Homo sapiens: one gene and its partners. The protein of the gene in region 4 purifies or fractionates together with the protein of the main gene of each other region. This does not show direct contact. Each region holds a gene or a part of one and is shown on either strand. Other genes may lie near its edges.

What was found.
Region 1: the proteins of SUCLA2 (region 4) and LONP2 purify together in Homo sapiens (affinity purification with mass spectrometry; 2 studies listed by BioGRID and IntAct, with this or other methods). This does not show direct contact.
Region 2: the proteins of SUCLA2 (region 4) and MTNAP1 purify together in Homo sapiens (affinity purification with mass spectrometry; 2 studies listed by BioGRID and IntAct, with this or other methods). This does not show direct contact.
Region 3: the proteins of SUCLA2 (region 4) and MCCC1 purify together in Homo sapiens (affinity purification with mass spectrometry; 2 studies listed by BioGRID and IntAct, with this or other methods). This does not show direct contact.
Region 5: the proteins of SUCLA2 (region 4) and NFU1 fractionate together in Homo sapiens (co-fractionation; one large-scale study listed by BioGRID). This does not show direct contact.
Region 6: the proteins of SUCLA2 (region 4) and IQGAP2 purify together in Homo sapiens (affinity purification with mass spectrometry; 2 studies listed by BioGRID and IntAct, with this or other methods). This does not show direct contact.
Region 7: the proteins of SUCLA2 (region 4) and GTPBP10 purify together in Homo sapiens (affinity purification with mass spectrometry; 2 studies listed by BioGRID and IntAct, with this or other methods). This does not show direct contact.

The regions. Positions count from the first base shown.
Region 1 is NC_000016.10:48,271,800-48,275,299, reverse strand, and holds part of LONP2 (lon protease homolog 2, peroxisomal), read right to left. Parts: intron 1-3,500. UniProt on the Homo sapiens protein: ATP-dependent serine protease that mediates the selective degradation of misfolded and unassembled polypeptides in the peroxisomal matrix.
Region 2 is NC_000017.11:73,230,969-73,235,232, reverse strand, and holds the start of MTNAP1 (mitochondrial nucleoid-associated protein 1), read right to left. Parts: upstream 2,801-4,264; 5' UTR 2,744-2,800; exon of another isoform or gene 2,604-2,743; intron 2,573-2,603; exon of another isoform or gene 2,516-2,572; intron 2,078-2,515; exon of another isoform or gene 2,014-2,077; 5' UTR 1,908-2,013; intron 1,777-1,907; exon of another isoform or gene 1,265-1,776; intron 1-1,264. Other genes in the region: protein VCF1, read left to right, coding at 2,927-3,147. UniProt on the Homo sapiens protein: Critical regulator of mitochondrial DNA (mtDNA) abundance. Binds dsDNA throughout the mitochondrial genome without sequence specificity and controls mtDNA copy number by promoting its replication.
Region 3 is NC_000003.12:183,017,108-183,019,496, forward strand, and holds part of MCCC1 (methylcrotonoyl-CoA carboxylase subunit alpha, mitochondrial isoform 1 precursor), read right to left. Parts: intron 231-2,389; coding exon 159-230; intron 1-158.
Region 4 is NC_000013.11:47,991,274-47,994,773, forward strand, and holds part of SUCLA2 (succinate--CoA ligase [ADP-forming] subunit beta, mitochondrial precursor), read right to left. Parts: intron 1-3,500. UniProt on the Homo sapiens protein: ATP-specific succinyl-CoA synthetase functions in the citric acid cycle (TCA), coupling the hydrolysis of succinyl-CoA to the synthesis of ATP and thus represents the only step of substrate-level phosphorylation in the TCA.
Region 5 is NC_000002.12:69,430,936-69,434,435, forward strand, and holds part of NFU1 (NFU1 iron-sulfur cluster scaffold homolog, mitochondrial), read right to left. Parts: intron 1,071-3,500; coding exon 967-1,070; intron 1-966. UniProt on the Homo sapiens protein: Iron-sulfur cluster scaffold protein which can assemble [4Fe-4S] clusters and deliver them to target proteins.
Region 6 is NC_000005.10:76,696,785-76,700,284, forward strand, and holds part of IQGAP2 (ras GTPase-activating-like protein IQGAP2), read left to right. Parts: intron 1-1,202; coding exon 1,203-1,363; intron 1,364-3,500. UniProt on the Homo sapiens protein: Binds to activated CDC42 and RAC1 but does not seem to stimulate their GTPase activity. Associates with calmodulin.
Region 7 is NC_000007.14:90,353,216-90,356,715, reverse strand, and holds part of GTPBP10 (GTP-binding protein 10), read right to left. Parts: intron 2,259-3,500; coding exon 2,167-2,258; intron 1,631-2,166; coding exon 1,486-1,630; intron 1,010-1,485; exon of another isoform or gene 1-1,009. UniProt on the Homo sapiens protein: May be involved in the ribosome maturation process. Complements an ObgE(CgtA) function in E.coli ribosome maturation. Plays a role of GTPase in vitro. When missing, disorganization of the nucleolar architecture is observed.

The DNA of each region.
Region 1 (3,500 bases), on a different chromosome or scaffold from region 4:
TCTGAATACTATTTTGGGCAAATTACTTGACCTAAGCCTCAGTTTCCTCACCTATAAGATGGGGAAAATAGTGTCAACCTGGTGGGTTATATTAATATAAGGATCATGAGAGAACACAGGCAAAGCACACAGCACGGTCCCTGGCACACAGTGAGCTTTCCAGTGATGCTCATCATTATTAGCAACAGCTACTTAAAGTTTACTTCTGGTTTCCTGGAAAAAGCACAAGAGCAGAATTCAGTACACCTGAATTTGAGTCCCATTTCAATTTCTGCCTCATGGAAGCAACTTTTGCAAATGTCTTTTATAGCAGACAAGAGAGAAAAATATAGGCATTTCACCATCCACTCTTCCTACCTATTCAATTAAAGGGCTCGGCTCCCGCAGGCTATAATGCAAACTGTTAAAATAAAATTTACAAAGAATTTGGAATAGAAAAGAGTTTAAGTGTTACAATGTTAAGTGAAAATGACAGGATTACAATTCTGTTACTTAAAATCCAATGATAAGTCTGGCAGAACAAAACAAATGTTAACAGTGATTATCTTTGTACGGTAGAAAAACATGAGGATTTTTTCCCCTTATTTTTCACATTTTCTACCAAGGGTGTGTGGATGTGTGGGTGTGGGTGTGGGTGGGTGTGTGGGTGTGTGTGTGTATCTCAAACTGGAAAAAGGAATCAGTTTAAAAAAGATCCTAATGATCTCAAAAAGAAAAACAGTCTTTAAGAAACTGGGATTTTAATGTATAATAGCATGTCTAAACAAATGCAATTATTCTTCTGGTAGTCATTCCTAAATCTTTTTATAGACTAATTTGTATGGGTGTACTCGTCTAAAGGGTTGCATAACTTCCAAAATATTATGTTTTAATCTTACATGAATTCACAAAACACCCAGAGAGCGCTCACCACATTTAGCACCATGTTAAATAAGCATCATGGGGTACATAAAGGAGATAGACGATAAATCCCCTGCCTGAGAAAGCTTGTACTTTTTATAAACGTATTTATGTTTCATCTCCACAGTTGTATGGTAGAAATGCCAGAGGCCCGTATTCGATAAAGGAGCACAATAGGTGGTCAGTTTAGAGAAGAGTGAAATCATAACTGACTGCACTTACATTAATGGAGGAAGCCTTGGGTTGAGGCCTTAAAATAAACCTAAGTTTTGGAGAGGCAAAGAAGAGCTACATGCAAATGTAAGTTGAAAGGATAGTGGGCAAACCATAATATATCTGGTACACTATGCTAAAAAAATACATTAGAAGCTTGCTGCTTCAGTTATTTTTCCCTTGTAGAAACTAATAATGAAATAGTTTATTTATAACTTTACCATTTCAGGTTGCATATGAAAATGTATCAATGTGGAAATCACAAGTTCATTTTTCTTCTCATCTTGTTTGAAAGTTGAGACAAGGATTTCTTGCAATAATATAATTTTATTATCTAAGTAAACAGCTGGTAAAGTATTTCTAGGAGTTAATATCCACAGTGATTTAAGATATATCATAACAATAATATATTATTTCTTTTTACCAAAGAACAAATGAAAAACAATTATGCAAACATTATTTCATAAAACTTCATCTTAAAAGAAGTTAGTTACCTTATATTTGTGTGAATTGACTTAAATTATTTAAATGTAATACTTAAATATAAAAATTTAAGTTGTTAAAACTGATAGAAGGGAATGAGTATTTTGTGGCTTACAAAGTGGACAGAAAAATCACAATGGAGATAAATCCAAATGAGAAATATCGAAAAGACTGAAAAACTGAATGAGTTAATACGTAGCATAAACATTATTCTTCCTTTAAGCTACTCAAAACAATACAGACAAAAATGAGGCAATGTTTAGTCAGATCACTATTATTTTCCAAGTTTAAGATTAAATATTAAGGCAAGCCTCTCTTTTGCTTCCCCATCTCCCACCTCATTATCATTTAACCATAAAAAACATATCTTTGCTTGTTTTTAAAATCAATCCCCAACTTATCGGCATCCTTCTTCTCATACGCAGGTACTTTTAGCAAAAGGAAAGTGTTCCACACATGGGAAAACAGGGAGAGTGAGTGGCAAAATCGAGAGGATAAGCAAGGACAATAACAAAGCAGCTTTCTTTTTCCCTGGCTTTCTTTTTCCTTGGCTATTCTAAGGCTGCGGAACAGTGGTGCCTACTCAAAGGCTGAGGAAAAACAAAACTTTTCATGAACTCTAACTGTGAGCATGTGACCGGTACTCAAACGTCAAGACCTGGGTTGTCTCCCAAATGCCTCAACTGTCACATGGAACCACATGTTCCCCCAGGCACACCCATGGTTGTGCTGGAATTGTCGGTTGTTCTTTCTCTCCTCCTCCTATTCACCTTCAATTCATAACTGACCTAAGTGCATGCTCTGCCCTCACCCTTTCCTCAACAACTGAACCCCACTACTCTCCACGTGCTTCCAAACAGGGTTTGAAATAAAATTTTTCACCAGGCTTTAATAATTCACGGGGTAGATGGGTAATATGTCCCCAACAGCACAAGGGCAGGTTGCTATAGTAGTTAATCAAACATCTGGTACACTGATGGCTAAGTAACACTTACCAGCAAGGTGTATCTAAAATCAGGCTGAATAGAATGATTCACAAAACAAATCCTTATACTTTTTACTCGGCAACAATCACAGCCTCCATATATACGTTTCTAAAAAGGTTATATTTACAAATATTTTAGGCAATGGTGATTGTAACACAACCTCCTTTTACAAAAGACCCATAAAGTCAATTCTTATTTTCTTCAGACTCAATTTTCTTAATACAGTCACATACACAAAAGCATATTCACTTGAAAAAAAGAACAAATTTTATATGTCAGTAAGGATTTAAAATAGAGATTTATTTTAATCCAGTGATGTTTGTAAGTGGTGAGAACCATGACACTATACACTGTCCATTAGTAGGCAACAGAAAAATGCATTTTCCCATAATTCTGCCGTATAAATTAAGTAATAATGCTGAGAATAGGATAAATATTTTAGAAGGCAATTAAAAAATCAGATTGAAATTTATAAAAACTCATACTGAAGCTTGTAAATCTAAATTTGTCCTCCTGAGAATTTATTAATAGAATTTAAATAATGGTTAAAGCTAATTTTTAGTGAATGCTCACTGTGTGTCAGGTATTGAATAAGTGCTTTCCAAGCCTTATCAAATAATCAATACCAATGTGAAAAGAAATAAGAACAAATTACCTACATGTCACGTGCTTATGATGTCAATTTCACATAGCATTAATTCCACGAACTCACTCTCTAAATGCCATCAAATACTTACTCTGTAGCTAAAATTAGAAGATTTAGGCCCTAGACGCAGCTTCTTTGAGTTTGGTCCAAGAGAAATGCCAATTCCTTTACGAAAGCAAACTATAGCCTCTAGTGGTACATGCAAGAATAAGAAGTCTAGGCAACAAAAATATCTTTTGAAATTGCCAGAAGAAATCACCCAAATCAATTCT
Region 2 (4,264 bases), on a different chromosome or scaffold from region 4:
TTTATTTATTTTGGAAACAGAGTCTCACTCTGTCACCCAGGCTGGAGTGCAGTGGCACAATATCTGCTCACTGCAAACTCCGCCTCCCAGGTTCAAGCAATTCTCGTCTCAGCCTCCCAAGTAGTTGGGACTACAGGGGCATGCCACCACGCCTGACTAATTTTTTGTATTTTAGTAAAGACGGGGTTTCACCGTGTCCGTGTTACCCAGACTGGTCTCGAACTCCTGAGCTCTGGCAATCCACCCACCTCAGCCCCCTAAAGTGCTGAGATTACAGGCGCGAGCTACCACGCCCACGCCCAGCCAAAGGTTACTGATTACAGCAGAGGTTTCCAAAGTGATAAATAGAATATGCACTAGGGTGTAAGAAGAAAATATTAGAATTACCACAATCAAAGAATGAGAAATGAAGCTCTACTAACATTTAGTAATATGCATATACACACACACACACACACAGATATACATAAAATGTATGCATAATGCACAAATATATACATGGCCAAGGACACAGTCCTGTTTTTCACTTATACTTTTTTTTTTTTTTTTTTGAGACAGAGTCTCACTCTGTCACCAGGCCGGAGTGCAGTGTCGGCTCACTGAAACCTCCATTTCCCAGGTTCAAGCTATTGTCCTGCCTCAGCATCCCGAGGAGCTGGGACTACAGGCATGCGCCACCACGCCAGGCTAATTTTTGTATTTTTAGTAGAGACGGGGTTTCACCATGTTGGCCAGGATGGTCTCAATCTCCTGACTTCGTGATCTGCCCGCCTTCGGCCTTCCAGTGTGCTGGGATTACAGGCGTGAGACACCACGCCTGGCCTACTTATAGTTTCTAGTACAACAGATTACTGGCAAATTAGTTTGACATCTTTGTTAAACATATACGATGTAAAAAATTAAAAAAAAAACATTTATACCATGTATATTTGTACCTGTTATTCTTTAGAGTCCAGAAAAGAAAATGTTTAATTCCAATGTTTAGTTGAAAGTTATTTCCTTTCTACATCTCTTATTCTTTCTATAAAGTTCCAGAGGGCAGGAAACATATCTATCCTGCACACAGCTGTATGTAAAAACCTAGCACTGAGCCTGGCATACAATATTTGTTCACTTAATTCTTTAGATATAAACGTTTAAATATTATTCAGTACTACAACTGATAATATCTTCTGACTACCAAAGAGATTAAAAAGGGTGACTGAAACCACTTACAAAATAGACACAATCTTCACCAATCCATTCAATAAAGCAACCAACCCACCTTATCCTGTACGAAGTCCTTCAAAACAAAACTGTTTTCTGCCAACAGATTACAGTAATCATTTTTACTTTGTTGTTGTTTGGTCTTTTTTTTTTTGAGATGGAGTCTTGCTCTATCACTCAGGCTGGAGTGCAGTGGCGCGATCTCGGCTCACAGCAACCTCAGCCTCCCAGGTTCAAACGGTTCTCCTGCCTCAGCCTCCCGCGTGGCTGGGATTACTGGGATTAAGGGCGTGCGCCACCACGCCCAGCTAATTTTAGTATTTTTAGTAGAGACGGGGTTTCACCATGTTGGCCAGGCTGGTCTTGAACTCCTGACCTCAGGTGATCCACCCGCCTCGGCCTCCCAAAGTGCTGGGACTACAGGCGTGAGCCACCGCGCCCAGCCTGCTGGGATTACAGGCGTGAGCCATCATTCTTTCTTTCTTTGGAGGTACACACTAACAGGATGAAAGCCACAGACTGTTTGTTTACAATAATACACACAAATGAAGCCAGTCCATGGACCTTCGGCTAACAACGTTAGGAAGGGCTTGACACCTGCTAGACGTTTCTGCCTCCACTCCACCTCACACTCAACCCTACTTGAAAGATCCCGGTACATTCCCACGATAACGTCTATACGTGGGTGTCTGTTTTCTTACCCGAGCTCCTCCAGGAGGATGCTAGTTTTGTGGGTGCTTCTCCCGGATCCCCATGCTTCCCCGATCACCGTTCCCGAGTGTGGCAGAATGAAACGTGAATGTCAGCCTGTGTAGGACACGATCAGACAGGTGACTTGGCAGCATGCACAGTGAGTAAACGCGGCACGATACTGAACCAAATAGAAACACAGGTTCCGGAAAGCAGAGAGTTAAGACCTCCCCAGCCTCCGGGCTCAAGGAGGACCTCAATAGTTCCACTAATCCTCACCCTCACCTCCGGCGCTCTCCAGCCGCCTTTCCCTCCTCCCGCTGCGTTACCAGCCTGCCCACCTCCCCGCACCCTTCCTTTCCCTGAAAGCTGTTCTGATTCTGCCAGCTGTTCTGATTCTGCGGAGTGGATGGGGTCGGCCCGGCAGCTCCTGGGTCAGGGACAGCCGTTCCCGCAGCCCCACCGAGGATTTCCTCCTGCGGTTCCAGGAAGACCCTCCGCCGGCCCCGGCACCCGATTCCCTACCCTCTCCGCTCAGGAGAGTCTCCCCCAGACTTAGAACGTGGGCCGCGGAAAACAAACCCGCCCTTGCAAGCTCCCCACAGAGCACCGTCCTCACCTCGGAAGACCTGAAAGCCCAGGCGGCCCCGGCGACAAGCCCCCCAGGGAAGCCCCCCAGGCCCCTGCCCAACCCCCGGCCAAGGAACCTCGTCAGGCCGTCTGCACCACTGCCGGATAGGTCCGCCTGTTTTAAAATATGTTACACGGATTCAACTCAAATACTTGTATGATATTATTATGACATAATTGAATTTATTTGAAACCTGGCTTGACTTTTATACCGTACCCTCCGTTGGCTGTGAACAGGCGAGCGCTTCTGCCACCCCAGGGGAGGTCCTTTCTCCCAGAAGCTCCTAGTCGCTCCTCCCGCTCCGAGCCCGCCTCTTCCCGTGGGCGGGGTTACCAGTCGGTGCGGTTGGGATGGTGCCACTGCGCAGCCGCGAGAGGGCGGTACCACGGCGGCAGCGACATGGGGGGGCGCGGAGCAGACGCCGGAAGTAGTGGTGGTACGGGTCCGACTGAGGGGTACTCGCCACCGGCTGCGTCCACCCGAGCGGCTGCGAGAGCCAAGGCCCGAGGGGGTGGGCGTGGCGGCCGCCGAAACACAACCCCCTCTGTTCCCTCTCTTCGCGGAGCGGCGCCGCGTAGCTTCCATCCGCCAGCTGCCATGAGCGAGCGCCTCCGTCCCAGGTGAGAGGGAAGGGACCCCCTTTCCATTCGTCGCCTGAGGATCTGGGAGATAGAGCCGAGGGGGCGCGCGAAATGGGGGTCGGAGCAAGAGTGGACCCGGCGGGGCTCCCTGTGGGGTGCACTGCGGGCCGGGGGAGGAGGGGAGAGGGATGCGCGAGTGATCGGATGCTTGGTTCCTGTGGGTAGCTGGAAGGTGACTCTCCGGGGTCCAGGTCTCCCGCCCCTCCATCTTTTTTCCCCCCTGTCTTTTCCTATTTGGAACGAAGTGTGATCGGTCCCGGAAGAGAGACGGTGGCCCTAAAGCTTTCCTGTCCTAAATTTAGGAGGGTGGGGGGATGGGATAAACGTCTCATCTTGGAGAGGGAGCCCCCAAAGGCTTTTGTGAGGGCACCGGGCGGGGAGCTGCCGGCTCCCCAAGGTCAGAAAGAAAGGTTGGGCTTAACCCCGCAGCAGGGAAAGATTCGGTTAGACCGAAGAACTTGTGCCCTGAACGGTTGTGAACACAGAAGGGCAGATGACCAAGGCGGGTTATGGATCTTCTCTTGACTGTGGCATTAAGAACAAGCTGGATTCTAAACTGTTTGGATTGCGGGGCCGTTTGACTCCGAAGGCGGGAGGAAAGATTTTATCGCGATGCACTCGCTACCTTCCCGAGGGAGCCTGGCCTCGGGACGCGGGTCTTAAATTAGGGGTTCTGTGCTTGACATGTACTACTAGAGTCCGGACTAAGTTGGGATTTCTTAATTTTTTTCTCTCTCTTAATTTCCTCTGCAAGAATGTGTGGAGGAGAAAGTTGGGAAAGGTTACCTCAGAATGCTCTTCCTGTTACGGTCTTTCCACAAGGATCCTTCTCTGAAATAATTATTTCATGTGATTGAAGTTCTCAAAAGTATTCTGAGTTTATTTGGTCCCATAGTGAAAACCTAGGGTTCCCCAAGCTGCTGCATTGGATTATTGATTTGGGTCATGTAGCAGGTGGAGCATAAAGCCTCTCCTTGTATAGAAAAGAAGAGTGGACTAAATTTGAAATTGGGGGCCCAATTACAGACATGCCATCGGAATTAGGAGCAAGATCTTTAGATACAGTGAATCTGACCCGACTGCCATATTATTCTTT
Region 3 (2,389 bases), on a different chromosome or scaffold from region 4:
CAAGAAGGATAGTTTGGTTTTGTTTCCTACAATTAATGCTTCGTCAATCATGGCTTTTCATATTTAAGGTGGTATTAACTTACAAAATAAGGCAAAAGAACCATTAGGTATGATTGCTCCCAAAGTCCTCATAGCAAATGAACTCATGATTTCCTTACCTCCATCTTCATGGCGATCATAACCATGAGGGAATCTCCCGCTTTCACTTTGTCTCCAGCTTTGACAAACACCTTGAGATTCAGTGTGACAGGTTAATATTTGAAAACACAGAGGTCCTAGATATGTTCATCTGCTTCATTATAGTAACCATTTTACTGTCTATATATACTCATAACATCATGTTGCAAACCATGAATATAAACAATAAAACATAAATAAAAAGAAAAAAAACAACACAGAGGTCCTTTGTGGTCCACAGATTTGGTATATAAACTTACAGAGCAGAAGTAGAGCCCATGTGGTTGTGCCATCTGCCAAATGCACTGGTCAAATCAGAGGCCTACAGCCCAAATATACAGGTCAAATCTGAGACCTACAGCCCAAATGCACTGGTCAAATCAGAGGCCTACAGGTCAAATGCACTGGTCAAATCAGAGGCTTACAGCCCAAATGTACAGGTCAAATCTGAGACCTACAGCCCAAATGTACTGGTCAAATCAGAGGCCTACAGCCCAAATGTACTGGTCAAATCAGAGGCCTACAGCCCAAATGTACTGGTCAAATCAGAGGCCTACAGCCCAAATGCACTGGTCAAATCAGAGGCCTACAGGTCAAATGTACTGGTCAAATCAGAGGCCTACAGCCCAAATGTACTGGTCAAATCAGAGGCCTACAGGTCAAATGCACTGGTCAAATCAGAGGCCTACAGCCCAAATGCACTGGTCAAATCAGAGGCCTACAGGTCAAATGCACTGGTCAAATCAGAGGCCTACAGCCCAAATGCACTGGTCAAATCAGAGGCCTACAGCCCAAATGTACTCGTCAAATAAGAGGCCTACAGGTCAAATGCACTGGTCAAATCAGAGGCCTACAGCCCAAATGCACTGGTCAAATCAGAGGCCTACAGCCCAAATGCACTGGTCAAATCAGAGGCCTACAGGTCAAATGCACTGGTCAAATCAGAGGCCTACAGCCCAAATGCACTGGTCAAATCAGAGGCCTACAGGTCAAATGTACTGGTCAAATCAGAGGCCTACAGCCCAAATGTACTGGTCAAATCAGAGGCCTACAGGTCAAATGCACTGGTCAAATCAGAGGCCTACAGCCCAAATGCACTGGTCAAATCAGAGGCCTACAGGTCAAATGCACTGGTCAAATCAGAGGCCTACAGCCCAAATGTACTGGTCAAATCAGAGGCCTACAGGTCAAATGCACTGGTCAAATCAGAGGCCTACAGCCCAAATGCACTAGTCAAATGAGAGCCCTACAGGTCAATCTGGCATTGCTGGCACTGTCGTCCATGGGTAGCACTGCTTAGTCCCCTGTCCCCACCCACAAAACCACTTAGTTTTACTTGAATCACATGAATATACTCCATGTATTTTGAAATCCTTTCATTTTTTTCAAGAATGTAGAAACAAGACACATTGCCAGTAGGGAAGGACTAATATACTTAAATGTCTTCCCCAGAGAGGGAAGAGGGATGAGGGTCTTGACTGGTTTTCTTGTTTTGGGGTTGTCTAGGGCTAAGTATAGTAAGTGTGTTTGAAGTCTTCAGAGCCCTGTGTAGTAAATGTGAAGACAATCTTCATGCAACAGAATCAAACTTATTAGCAACCCCAGAAAGAGATTTCTATTTTCTTTTGTATACATATAAATGGACTCATAGATCCTATATGGTCTCACTTTCGTTTTGGTTAACATGGCTACTAAGTGGGAGACTAACAGAGTTGTGCAGAGATGCCTGCACTATGAGAGGCCTGTGGGAACTGAAATCAAATGAGCTAAAGGCAGATCCAGGTCTCCTAGCTCATACCCACTTGGGGTAAATATTTCCAAACGAGAATAGTGGCTGAAATCACCCACACTATTTAAGTAGTTATTTTCTTCTTCTTCTTTTTTTGTTCCAAGCATATACAGTTGAGTTTTTATGATTTAAGTGTATTTGAGGAGACTCTACTGTATTCAAGTATATAAAAGGAGACTACGGATACTGATCTATCACCATTTGATGTTATATCAGTATGTGCTAGGGTCTAAATGTCTATATCCCTCCAGAATTCATTTGTTAAAATCCTGACCTCCAGGATGATGGTATTTGGAGGTGGGGCCTTTAGCAGGTGATTAGGTCATGAGGGATCTGGCCTCATGAAAGAGATTAGTGCCCTTATGAAAGAGGCCTGAAGAGAGGTCCCTTGTCCCTTCCACCACGTGAGGACACAGAGAAAAA
Region 4 (3,500 bases):
CCTAGGCCCTCCTGGTTGCTCACTCTGTTCCAACTGCACTAATCCCCTCACTATTCCTGGGCATGTTCCTGCCTTCAGGACTTGGCTCTAATGCACCCTCTGCCTAGAATACTCTTCACCAGGTGTCCATGTGGGAAAAGCCCCCGATCCTTCAAGTTTCTCTTTAAATCTCATGTTGCCCATGAAGCTTACCCTACTAACCTGCCCACCTGTGACCAATCCCCCTTACCTACTACACTTCTTTCCGCCATAGAATTCATCATCTTCGTACATATGTAATTCTCTTACATATATCATTTGTTGTTTTGCTTCCCCATCAGAAAAGAGGCCCAGGAGGGCAGAATCTTTGTTGTATTCATAGATGTTAACAAGCGTCTGGGAGAGTTCCTAGCACATAATATTTTGCTGAATGTTGAAAAAAAGGAACATTTAAAAATATGAACAGAATTCTTATAAATCTAGATTTCTTCACTGCTCTTACGAAAACTCCCAATGGGAAAAACTGGGTGCACAGTACTACAACTAGAGCTGATTAGAAAAAGTATCTTGTTTAGATAAGACAAACCCTTTTCAATTACCCTGTCTCTACTATTCACAAATGTATCACAACTAATATTAGGTAACAAATAGAAACAACTCAGAAATTTCCTTAAAACCAACAATAACGTTCTTATTGAGAATACTACAGGTTGTCTCTGAACCATGGCAAATTAGAGAGTTTGTGCCCAAACGGAAGGGAGCAGCCACTATTTATTCCACTTGTTTCTGTTTACCTGTCCAGTCCTGATTTTCCAGCACTTTAAATATTTGTTTATATCCGAAGAAGAGAACTACAAGGCAAACAGTGCAAATGTAATGTAAAAAATGGTCATAGTTACACTGTGCTTTACTGAGCTAAATTCAATCATTCCTATTCATTAAACTGGGAACTTAACACATTGACCTATTAAGAGTAACGAAGCTCTATTTTTTCAAAAACACTTGGCAAGACAGAAGGTTCTTCTCTTCCCCGCAAAGTGTCAATTTCCTTTCTTTAGGAATATAAAGTCTTTAAGGGCAAAAGATGATTCTTCGAAAGTTCCTTCTAAAAAAAAAAAGCCCTTCACAACGAAAGCAAAAAAAAAAAAAAAAAAAAAATTTTTCATGAAATACAGTCTCATCAACTATCAAGAAAGGAAGAAAGATTAGAAGAGAAGTCTGAGGACAACTGGTCGAAACAAACATTTTATTCAATTCCATTAATTCACTCAACAGGTTCATCTACATACCAGACACTGTGCTAGCGTTGTAGATACAACAGTGAGTGAGACCTCTCCTGCCCTCATAGAACCTGCAGTCTTATTACATTTGGCACTGCTCTAGTCAGACAAGATCTTTTTTGGATCCCAAGACTGTCTCTAAAACACAATCACTATCCCAGCTACCTTTAGTCACTCACAAACATTTTAAGCATTCCTTGTATACAGGTATCTAACTAATAAATATTTAAAAGAAAGAAAGAAGGTAAAGTCCTATTATATGCCATTAGAAATCTCCCTCCGGGCTGACATTCATTAATCAGCACCCTTTACATGTATCTATTCAACCAGATAGGGATTCCACCTTAAATATACTAGAAGCCAAACTATCTTTCTATAGTCAATAGGGAAATTATAAAAATTCTGCCAAATCTGTGCCCAGGCGCAGTGGCTCACGCCTGTAGTCCCAGCACTTTGGGAAGCCAAGGGTGGGTGGAAGGCTTGAGCCCCGGAGTTTGAGACCAGCCTGGGCAACATGGTGAAACCCCATCTCAAGAAAAAATACAAAAATTAGCCAGGCATGGTGGAGCACACCTATAGTCCCAGCTACTCAGCAGGCTGAGACGGGAGAAGTGGCTTGAGCCCAGGAGGTCGAAGCTGCAATGAGCCATGATCACACCACTGCACTCCAGCCTGGGTGACAGAACAAGACACTGTCTCAGAAACAAAACAACAAACATTCTGCCAAACCCTTACTAAAATCATATTTCCTTGAACTATGAACTGTTAGAGATAATTTGCTCTCAGAACTGACCCCAAATAATATCTACTACATTTATCTGTGCTAATAACCATCCCTTTGATAATCTATTCCAGAAACTTCATGATCTTCAAGCTCACCAACCTTCATTTTGGGGACTCATATAGTCTTTTAAAATATTAGAATTAGATTTCTTTCTAACCATTCCTCCATTCCTAACCTCAATTATTCACAGCAGGTAAAACTTGCCTACAGGACAATGCCTCTCAACTTTTTTCACATCATCACACAAACAGAAAATGATGGACATGGTAGGAAATACTGGGTAAAGAGGCTCAGTGGCCCCAAACCCCATGCTAACTCAACTTCTCCTGCCACCACAGGACTGGGAAGAAACAATAGTTTGGCACACCTGTAAAGCATTTATGTTCTATTATGTCACTTGTTGAGCAAAGCGCTGAGTTAAGAGTTTTTATGAAGGCCAGGCCTGGTGGCTCACGCCTATTGTAATCCCAGCACTTTGGGAGGGTGAGGCAGGTGGATCACCTGAGGTCGGGAGTTTAAGACCAGCCTGATCAACATGGAGAAACCCTGTCTCTACTAAAAATACAAAATTAGCCGGGGTGGTGGCACATGCCTGTAATCCCAGCTACTCAGGAGGCTGAGGCAGGAGAACTGCTTGAACCCAGGAGGCAGAGGTTGCTTGAACCCAGGAGGCGGAGGTTGCGGTGAGCTGAGATGGCGCCATTGCACTCCAGCCTGGGCAACAAGAACGAAACTCCGTCTCAAAAAAAAAAAAAAGAGTTTTTATGAAATGAAAATTAGCATTTTATGAATTTTGCAGAAAGTCAAAAAGCAAAAATCACCCTGAAGTAATGAAAACTCAGCATTGGGAATTGCTAGCTACATGAACAAAACCAAGTGTATTTCTAAGGTCCCTCATTCTACACCTTGTGCAACTAGATCCCATAATCGTTATCTTTTGTTATCAATGACTCACTAAAAACACAAAATTGGGCTGGGTGCGGTGGCTCACGCCTGTAATCCCAGCACTTTGGGAGGCCTAGGCGGGTGGATCACAAGGTCAGGGGTTCGAGACCAGCCTGACCAACATGGTGAAACCCCGTCTCTACTAAAAATACAAAAATTAGCTGGGCATGGTGGCGGGCACCTGTAATCCCAGCTACTCAGGAGGCTGAGGCAGGAGAATTGCTTGAACCTGGGAGACGGAGGTTGCAGTGAGCCGAGATCGCGCCACTGCACTCCAGCCTGGGCGACAGAGTGAGACTCCGTCTCAAAAAAAAAAAAAAAAAAAAAACCACGAAATTGTCCTCCATATTTTCATAGACGTTTCTAAATTTATCTTTTAAAAACTAGCATTTCTGCTCCTCTAGATTTAAATTTCCTTGTTAATTATTAGTCTCCCTCCCACACTATAATCATCATTTGCAATATTCTTTGACAAAAAACACACTTTCTAAATGAACAAGGTATCTGTTCCA
Region 5 (3,500 bases), on a different chromosome or scaffold from region 4:
AACACATATAGGTATACATTTACATACATACACACATGCAGACACACATACCCTCTCCCCTTAAACTTCCCTAACTCTACATTACAGTCATCACACTTCAAATTATTTTAAATCATATCTATTTCCCAAATTAAAGAAAATTAAAGTATATATCTCGTTAACAATCAAGATTATTAACAAAACCATAGTAATTAATTTTGACAAAAAAGCTTTTCTTTCTTTTTTTTGAATGTAGTTTTTTACTACATTCAAAATCCTGTGTTCTAAGGTCTGGATGAAAGCCAGAAATTTACTAATTTTAAGGGTATTCTTATCCAAAAAAAGGACAGCAGTAGCTTTAAATACATAGAATTCTTTGAAACACAATCCCCATTTGAAACTTCTTTTTGAGACAGGGTCCCACTTTGTCACCCAGGCTGGAGCACAGTGGTGTGATCACGGCTCACTGCAAGCTTGAACTCCTGGGCTAAAGGGATTCTCCCACCTCAGCCTCCCAAGCAGCTGGGACTACACGTGTGCGCCACCATGCCCAGCTAATTTTTTGTATTTTTTGTAGAGACAGGGTTTTGCTGTGTTGCCCAGGCTGGTCTCAAACTCCTGGGCTCAAGCGATCAACCTGCCTCAGCCTCTCAAAGTACTGGGATTACAGGCATGAGCCACCACACCCAGTCAGATTTTAACTTCTACAGTATTTTCATTTTGGAAATCATTTATTGAGCAACTCTTGTGTTGCAGGGGATATGTTATACAACATACTGAGATTTCATAGATCTATTGGACAATATCCTTGCAAATACATTTTCTACTTAGAAGCCTATAAGAAAAATATAGCTTTTTTTCCTATATTCTATCTATAGGCTTCTAAATAGAAAATATACAAATTCTCATCTTTTATGATCCACAAAATCCTAGCACAGTTCCATCAGTTTCTGAAACACAACTGCTATAAAAGAGGTGAAATTTTACCTGGGTGATAAAAGGCTGCAGGTAGTGGGAAAAGTGGTCTTTGTACAAACTGATGCAGAGGCTGTTTCTTAATGGTGTATGGATTCTTCAACATATGACAGAACCTGCATTTAAAAGCACATAATGAATGACATTTTAAGAGCTCTAATCTTTTAAAGTTGGTTTCTACTTCTCATGTATAAAAAAGACCTATGTAAAATTTAAACATAACCCGCAATAGAAATAATTAGAGAACTGACTTTTCATCTTCCATCTACATTATTTCCACTTACTTAGGCAAGCAATATCTACAAACAATTCAAAATCAGGTAGAGCTCAAATGGAAATTCCTACCCTTGATAACCGGGTGTGCACAGGATAATATAACATTGAGGTATAAGAAACAGAATTGGGCTGGGTGAGGTGGCTCACGCCTGTAATCCCAGCATTTTGGGAGGCCGAGGCAGGTGGATCACGTGAGGTTGGGAGTTCAAGACCAGCCTGACCAACATGGAGAAACCCCATCTCTACTAAAAATACAAAATTAGCCGGGCATGGTGGCACATGCCTGTAATCCCAGCTACTCAGGAGGCTGAGGCAGGAGAATTGCTTGAACCCAGGAGGCAGAGGTTGCAGTGAGCCAACATCATGCCATTGCACTCCAGCCTGGGCAACAAGAGTGAAACTCTACCTCAAAAAAAAAAAGAAACAGAATTGTATCTACATTAGTAATTTATAACCCATAGTCCCAGACTCTTGGTTATACAGGAAGGAAGCAAATAACTATAAGCTTTTTTATTTTTTTAAAAAATTTAGAATTAGGCAATAGAGTCACATGGTTCAAAACTGGTAAGGGAAAAAAGCATAAATAGTGAAAGCCTCCCTCCTTTCCTGTCCCTTACGTTTCCCTCTCTCAAGATAACCTATATTACCTGTTTTGAAAAGTATTTCAATACTTCAAAAAATCTAAAAGAAAGTATACTATTGGGCCAGGGGTGGTGGCTCACGCCTGTAATGCCAGCACTTTGGGAGGCCAAGGCAGGTGGATCACCTGAGGTCAGGAGTTCGAGACGAGCCTGCCCAACATGGTGCAACTCCATCTCTACTAAAAATACAAAAAATAGCTGGGAGTGGTGGTGGGCGCCTGTAATCCCAGCTACTCGGGAGGCTGAGGCAGAGGAATCGCTTGAACCCAGGAGGCGTAGGTTGCAGTGAGCCGAGATCGTGCCACTGCACTCCAGCCTGGCCCAAAGAGCAAGACTCCATCTCCAAAAAAAAAAAAAAAAAAAGTATACGACTGTCCTTTTTGTTTTTGAGATGGAGTCTCACTGTTGTTGGCCCAGGCTGGAGTGCAATGGCACAATCTCGGCTCACTGCAACCTCCATCTCCCAGGTGCCAGCAATTCTGCTGCCTCAGCCTCCCGAGTAGCTGAGATTACAGGTGCCCGCCACCATGCCTGGCTAATTTTTGTACTTTTTAGTAGAGACAGGGTTTCACCATGTTGGCCAGGATGGTCTCGAACTCTTGACCTCAGGTGATCCTCCCGTATCGGCCTCCCAAAGTGCTGAGATTACAGGCATGAGACACCACACCTGGCCCGTCTTTTTTTTTTGAGACTGAGTCTCACTTTGTCGCCCACGCTGGAGTGCAGTGATGCGATCCCAGCTTACTGCAACCTCCACCTCCTGGGTTCAAGTGATTCTCTTGCCTCAGCCTCCCTAGTAGCTGGGATTACAGGTGTACACCATCACACCCGGCTAATTTTTATATTTTTAGTAGAGACAGGGTTTCACCACGTTGGCCAGGCTGATCTCCAACTCCTGACCTAAAGTGATCCACCTGCCTTGGCCTCCCAAAATGCTGGGATTACACAGCCAACGATCTTGATCACGCTTTTCGTGTTTTGTTTTGAGACAGGGTCTTGTTCTGTCACCCATGCTGGAGTACAATGGTGTGATCAGGGCTCACTGCAGCCTCAACATCCTAGGCTCAAGTGATTCTCCCACCTCAGCCTCCCAAGTAGGTGACACTACAGCTGTATGCCACCATGCCCAGCTAGTTTTTTTTTTTTTTTTTACTTCTGGTAGAGATGGATTACCACTATGTTGCTCAGGCTGATCTCCAGCTCCTGGCTCAAGTAATCCTCCCACTTTGGCCTCCCAAAGTGCTGGGATTATAGGCGTGAGCCACCATGCCCTGCCTTTTATATGCTTTTTGGATGGAAACATATTAACCCAGTGTTGTAACTTCACTTCACTTTTTTTTTTCTTTTTTTTTTTGTGAGACGGAGTCTTGCTCTGTCGCCCAGGATGGAGTGCAGTGGTGCGATCTTGGCTCACTGCAACCTCCGCCTCCTGGGTTCAAGCAATTCTCCGCCTCAGCCTCCCAAGTAGCTGGGATTATAGATGCCCACCACCATGCCCGGCTAATTTTTGTATTTTTAGTAGAGACAGGGTTTCACCATCTTGGCCAGGCTGGTCTTGAACTCCTGACCTCATGATCCACTAGCCTCGGCCTCCCAAAGTGCTGGGATTACAGGCGTGAGCCACAGCGC
Region 6 (3,500 bases), on a different chromosome or scaffold from region 4:
AAAAAGAAAAAGGCTATCATGAAGACATGATATTCTATTTAATGAATATTCTATTATATGAAGAATTTCTATTTAATGAAGAATTCTATTTAATGAAGAATATTCTATTTAATGAAGAAATTTTACCTAAGGGCATGGGGAAGTTGTGGGGGAGTGTATGTGTATGTAGGTATTTCTTTGAATTCCTAGGGGAATGGTTTTTAACTTGTTTACAAAAGAAAAATAATATTAAACAGGCACCGTTTTCTTAAGTCAAACATTTTCATAACTTACCAATTAGAATTATGAAAAAAACTTATATCTGCAAGTTTAAATTTAGCATAGCTCTTGTAAGCTATAAGCAGCTTATGCAACTTAATGTTCTAGGAATTCTATTTAAATCCAAGTAATAGTTATCAATGTTGAATCTTTTCACTCAGTCTTGACAGCCCAGTGTTGTTTTTTCAAACCTTGGGAAATATTTGTCAGATGAAAAAGTTTGTTCTTTTCTTATTTTAAAAATGAATTTAACAATTAAATGTAAACTTTTTTAGTTTAAAGTACTATTCAAAGAGGAATATTCAAAATAGTCTGAAGAGGCTGGGCACAATGTCTCATGCCTATAATCCCAGCACTTCGGGAGGCCGAGGCGGGCAGATCACTTGAGGTCAGGAGTTCAAGACCAGCCTGACCAACATGGTGAAACCCTGTAACTACTAAAAATACAAAAATTAGCCAGGCATATTGGCACGGGCCTGCAGCCCCAGCTACTCAGGAGGCTGAGGCAGGAGAATCGCTTGAACCTGGAGGTAAAGGTTGCAGAGATCAGGCCACTGCACTCCAGCCTGGGTGACAGAGCAAGACTATGTCTAAAAAAAAAAGTCTGAAGAAATTGCATTTCTGCTACTTTGTGCCCCTTTTAAAACGCAATTTTTCCTTAAACTAAATGTGTGGTTATTCTAAAATAACTTCTTTGCCTTTCCATCCAGAGCAAAATTAATGTTAACAAGTCTCTTAAAGTGAAATATGTACACTTTCCAGTTCTGAAGTAAAAAGGGATGGGAACCCTGTGGTGTTGAGAGTAAAATAAGGTGCCTGAGATAAGCTACAAGTCAAGTTACAAATAGCGACTTACTACTGCTTGATATTCTTCTTGTCCCAAACTGGCAATATCATAAAGCAAACTTCTGCTTAAATATGATACCCCTTACTTGTTGTTTTAGGATATTCGAAATCAAAGAATCTATCGTAAGCTTCGAAAAGCTGAATTGGCAAAACTTCAGCAGACCCTGAATGCACTTAACAAGAAGGCAGCATTTTATGAAGAGCAAATCAATTATTATGACACCTACATAAAGACTTGTTTAGACAACTTAAAAAGAAAGTAAGTTAAAATCATGTCATGTTCATTTGTAATGTCATGATTTCTATGAGATGTCAATTCTGTGTTTCTAGGCAGTTGGGTTGGGTATGGAAGAAAACTTTTTGCTCTGTCTTCTAACCGAAAACTAGAGTCTCAGTTTTATTATTTGCCACTGTGAACTAAGAAGTCAGGAGTAAGTGAAAGCTTTTCAATTCCCCACCAGCACTAGAATTAAAGTGGCTTACCTGTTGTATATTGAGCAAATAGCATTAGTAAGTTAGGGAAGCACTTTCATTATTCCTTTTGTCTTTTTTAGCCAAAGATTTTTTTAAATACTATTATTTTTAAAGTCTCTTGTTTTTGGAATGTATTTTATATAATTGATAATATTAGATAATGCCAGGTGTTTGCTAATTGCACAGAGCAGCTGAATGTTTTTAAATTGCTTCATGGTTTTAAAAAATTATTGACACAACTGGCAAAATTTGGCAGCTGTCTATTATCCATTAGCATAAGTATTATAGGTTTTTATATACAGTATAGCCATTTTTAATGAATATCCTTTGCTTAGTAATTATTCTTATCACTAGACTATGATCAATGCTAGTTAAATTTTAATTACCCATTTAAATATGTAGTACAATATTTTTATATAATCCTTGTCATCAAATTGGCAGGAGGAAATGGTGCTGTATGGAAAAATCTGTTGCATTAATCATAGATCTTTTAAATTTTATTGCAAATTGACTATAATTTTATGTATTCCTGGGGTACAAGGTGATGTTATCATTTATTATTACAATGTGAAATAATTAATTCATATATGCATCACCTCAAATACTTAGTTTTTGTGATAAGAACACTTGAAATTTACTCCTAGCAGTTTTTAAATGTGCAATACATTATTATTAGCTATATTCACCACACTGTGCAATAGATTTCAAAAAAAAACTGATTCCTCCTAAGATTTCATATCCTTTGACCATCATCTCCCCGTTTCCCCCACCCTCCAGCCTCTGAAACCACCATTCTATTCTGCTTCTATGAGTTCAACTTTTTTAGATTCCACATATAAGCGAGAACATGTGGTATTTGCCTTTCTGTGCCTGGCCTATTTCACTTAGCATAGTGTCCTCTAATTCTGTCCACATTGCCCCAAATGTCAGAATTTCTTTGTTTTAGGGCCGAATAGTATTCTTCTGTGTGTATATATACCACATTTTCTTTACCTGTTCATCTGTTAGTAGATTCTTAGGTTGATTTCATAACTTAGCTAACGTGTGAGTAGTGCTGCAATGAAGATGGGAGTGCAGACATCTCTTTGACAAACTGATTTCACATCTTGGAGTAAACACCCAGAAGTTGGATTGCTGAAATCACAGAAGATTTGATAAAGGGATGCAGCCACATTTAAACCTTATTGATTTGGCTCCCACTAGTCCTGAATTTTAGTTCATTTGCTTCAGGCTTCTCTCTGTTTCTCTCTCTCTCTCTCTCTCTCTCTCTCTCTCTCTCTCTCTCTCTCTCTCTCTCTCACTCTCGTGCTCTCTCTCTCTCCATATATAGTTCATTTGCTTCAGGCTTCTCTCTGTTTCTCTCTCTCTCTCTCTCACTCTCACTCTCGTGCTCTCTCTCTCTCCATATATAGTTCATTTGCTTCAGGCTTCTTTCTGTTTCTCTCTCTCTCTCTCTCTCTCTCTCTCTCTCTCTCTCTCTCTCACTCTCGTGCTCTCTCTCTCTCCATATATAGTTCATTTGCTTCAGGCTTCTTTCTGTTTCTCTCTCTCTCTCTCTCTCTCTCTCTCTCTCTCTCTCTCACTCTCGTGCTCTCTCTCTCTATATATATATATATACAAAAATACACTAAATATGTATATACACACACTACATATAGTGTGCATATGCACTTATAATTACATAAACATATACACTATACACTAAATATAGGAAGGAAGGAAGAATATATACATATACATGCAAGGAAGAAGTTGGTCAAGCTTACTTTCAGTAGAAATGAGATTGTTAGGGATTTACTTTAAGGCATTTCACACAAGATCCACAGTCGGGCGAATTGGATTTGGGTTCTGATTCTCTCTTATGTCGTGTGATCTTGAGCCCAGTTCAGTGAACTTTGAGCCTCAGTTTTCTCATCCTTAAG
Region 7 (3,500 bases), on a different chromosome or scaffold from region 4:
TATTAAAGATGAGAAAACAAATGACGTGGTGAAAAGCAAAAAACTATAGTGAAGGAAGAATGAGAGAAAAGAAAAGAAAAAAAGAAGAGAAAACAAAGGCTTAGAGAGGCTGTGTAATTTACCCAAGACCAGCTGGCCAGCCTCCAGAGGATTTGAGATCCTAACCTAAATAGTCTAACCTGAGTCCTCCATGCCACTCCACTTTTATGACTAAGCCGTGCTAGGCTCCTCTTAGACTGTAAAGTTGTCTCTTCAGAACTTGAAACACATGTTTATGCAAAATGCAACTGTGATTGGCTGGACTGCCAGTCTTGTCCATAAGACCCTATTAAGCCCATAATGTTCCTAAAAATATAGAGGATTATAGAACTTACATCTAATAACTCTTGTAACTGTGCTTTATTGAAAAAAATAAATGTAAATGGCAAGCCAGGATCACATCTTTCCTTGTTATAATTTTAGCAGGAATGGGGCCTCTGTGAACCCTAAACCAATGGTGGTAAGCTCTAGTGGCTGGTCAGGCAGGGCAAAAGACGAGGGATACAGACTTAAGAGTCTGGTAAAGAAGCAGTGAGATGACTGAAGAGGAACATGAAAAGAACTTAGAAAGAAGCTATGGGGAAGCAAAAAATAGAACTAGGAATTTGGAGTAGGACAGTAATAAGGCAGTTTTCCTTATCTTGTCCTTAAGCTTTCCATCTGAATAACTGTGTAATACTGTGATAGGGCCAGAGGGAGAGGATAGGAGGGAGGGGGGATGGGGGAGAGAGAGCAAATGCAAATTGAAGTTTTCTCTTCCTTTATGTATTCTGTATCTTACTATCTATCCCCTTCCAGTGGGCAGCTGCACTGCAAACCCCACAGCTAAACAGCATTATTTAATGAAAGAATGGAGGCTGGTGGAAGAGGACACTCTTGTGAGGCCTACATTGCTGAGACTAGATAGATCCTAAGCAGAGGCAAGAAGGATATACAGTCATAGCAGGATTCAATTTGGCGGCAACAGTGCGTAAGTCTGAGGATTGAGATTGTCTGTACTGGTCTTTAGCCATTTGATTAACGATACTTTAATGTCTCTATTAAGACCCAAAAGAGTTATGTCAACCATTTTTCCCTGTTTATTTCCTTCTATATATTTTTAATAATAATACGGTTTGTTTGGATTTATTATTAATATCTGGTAACATTATTTAACCATCTTGTAATATTGCATTTGATTGATTTTTCTTTCTTTATGCATTCTCTAACATTCCCACTGATCTATTCAATTGCTCTGGTCTTAATTTTATAAATAAGCAATAACTATGAAACTCTGTGTTGGCAATTTGAAAATAATATTTAGCAGCATATTTTCCAAGTACATACACAACACACAAATTCCATAAATTAGAAATAATTATGGCCCCAAATTACCATTTACATTTATTTTCTATTCAAGAACTCTCTCTCTGAAAGTATAATAATAAAAATATGAACGATACTTACCCTACTAGGCCTACATCAGCTATAAGTTTTAGATCAAGGTGAATTATTCGTTTCTGGCCTTTCAATGGTAAGAAATTTGTAAGTAATTTACCACCAAGACCTCCTTGAGCTACCAAAATTCTGTCATTTTCTTTATTGAGTTCTCCTTAAAAAGAGGGAGAGAAATACTTACAGCAAAGATTAATAAGTGAAATCACTAATGCAATATATTTCTTTCAGAAATACAGGCAAAGAAATGCAAAATTACAAATCTATAGATTAGTAAGTGAAATCATTAATGTAATATTTTACTTTCAAAAATACATGCCAGGAAATTCTCAATTACAAATCTATAATTAATAAGTAGAATCATTAATGTAATATTGTTCTTTCAGAAAAACAGTCCAGGAAATTCCAATTTACAAATCTATTAAAAGTTTGACCCCAGAAAAACACTTCAGTAAACAATTGAAAAGAGCCTAGTTATATATTTTAAGACCAAGTAAGAACTGTAACATCTTTAAAACAATCTTAAATCTAGCAGTCAATTTAACTTTTATAAGTTTTAAAAATGCTCTCTTATAGAATAGTAGCTAAAATTGTTAGTTAAAAAATCTTCTGAAACTCAAGAGAAGCTATTCCATTGTTTCATTTTAGAAAACGTGCACATTTTTACAACTTTTGGAGTTATAGTACACTCACCTATAATTTTACCATTTTCATCAGTTACTGAAATACCCACAGGCACAGGGATTTCACAGTCTTTTCCTTTGGAGCCTTTCAGTGCACTAATTCTACCAAAAAAAAAGTATATATATGTATGTATGTGTGTGTGTATATATACACACACACACATACACACAAAATGGTTTACAAAGAAGAGTAGCAATCAATTCTCTGGTTAACGCAGATGTTAAATGGTCAAACACGGGGTTTAAAAAAACTAAAATTATCCCTAATTATTTCTTTGCATTTTAGACTATTATATCCCACTAAAATGGCATTAAGTAATGATTTAAGTTACTAAGCTAACCACCAAAGGTCATTTTAACCCGAAACTAAAATATTGCAACCATGAAATGAAGAGATTATTGCTACAATACAAATAGGGTAGAAAAAGCCAGGCGTGGTGGCTCACGCCTGTAATCTCAGCACTTTGGGAGGCGGAGGCAGGAGGATCTCTTGAGTCCAGGAGTTCAAGACAAGCCTGAACACCATAGCACGACCCCATTTCTACAAAAAAAGAAAAATTTAAAAATTAGCTGGGCATGGTGGCACATACCCGTAGTCTCAGCTACTTGGGAGGCAGAGGTGGGAGGATCACTTCAGCCTGAAAGGTAGAGGCTGCAGTGAGCTATGATAGTGCCCACTACACTCAACCTAGGCAACAGAATGAGACTCTGTCTCAAAAAAAAAAGAAAAAATGAATCTATAAAAAAAAAAAGAAAATCCACCAAATAGCAAAGCTTTTAAAAAACTAACCTCAAATGAGAGTACTTACATTATAGAAGGCAAATCTGGCTACTCTTAAACTGCTCATAAAAGAAAAAATTAGTACAAATGTTTTAGTAATTCTACTTCTGGGAATTTATCAAAATAATAATTGAACAAACATGTAAAATAGTATCTACACAGAATGCTGCACTGTGGTTATAATCGGAAAAAAAAATCAACAATAACCTAAATAGACAAATGACAAAATAGTTATTTATTATGCAGGTATTCTGAATAATTTTGACATGTGAAAAAAAGTAAAAATAGCAGATTGTAAAATACTGTACTCTCATTTTTGTATTCTAAACTTTTAGGCACATAATTGCATTTGTGTAAACACACAGAAAAGTCTTAGAAAAGTCAAGAAAAGGTTAATAGTGGTTATCTTGCCTTCTAATGGTGGTGGGGTAGAGTAGCATGGTTAAGACTGAAAGTTTTCTAAAAGGTTGTCAAAGATAATTTTAGAAGAAAACAGTGGGAATTCAGATAATTATCGGTTTCTACAGGGGAAGTGCAAAAAGAATACAGATAGACATTGGGAA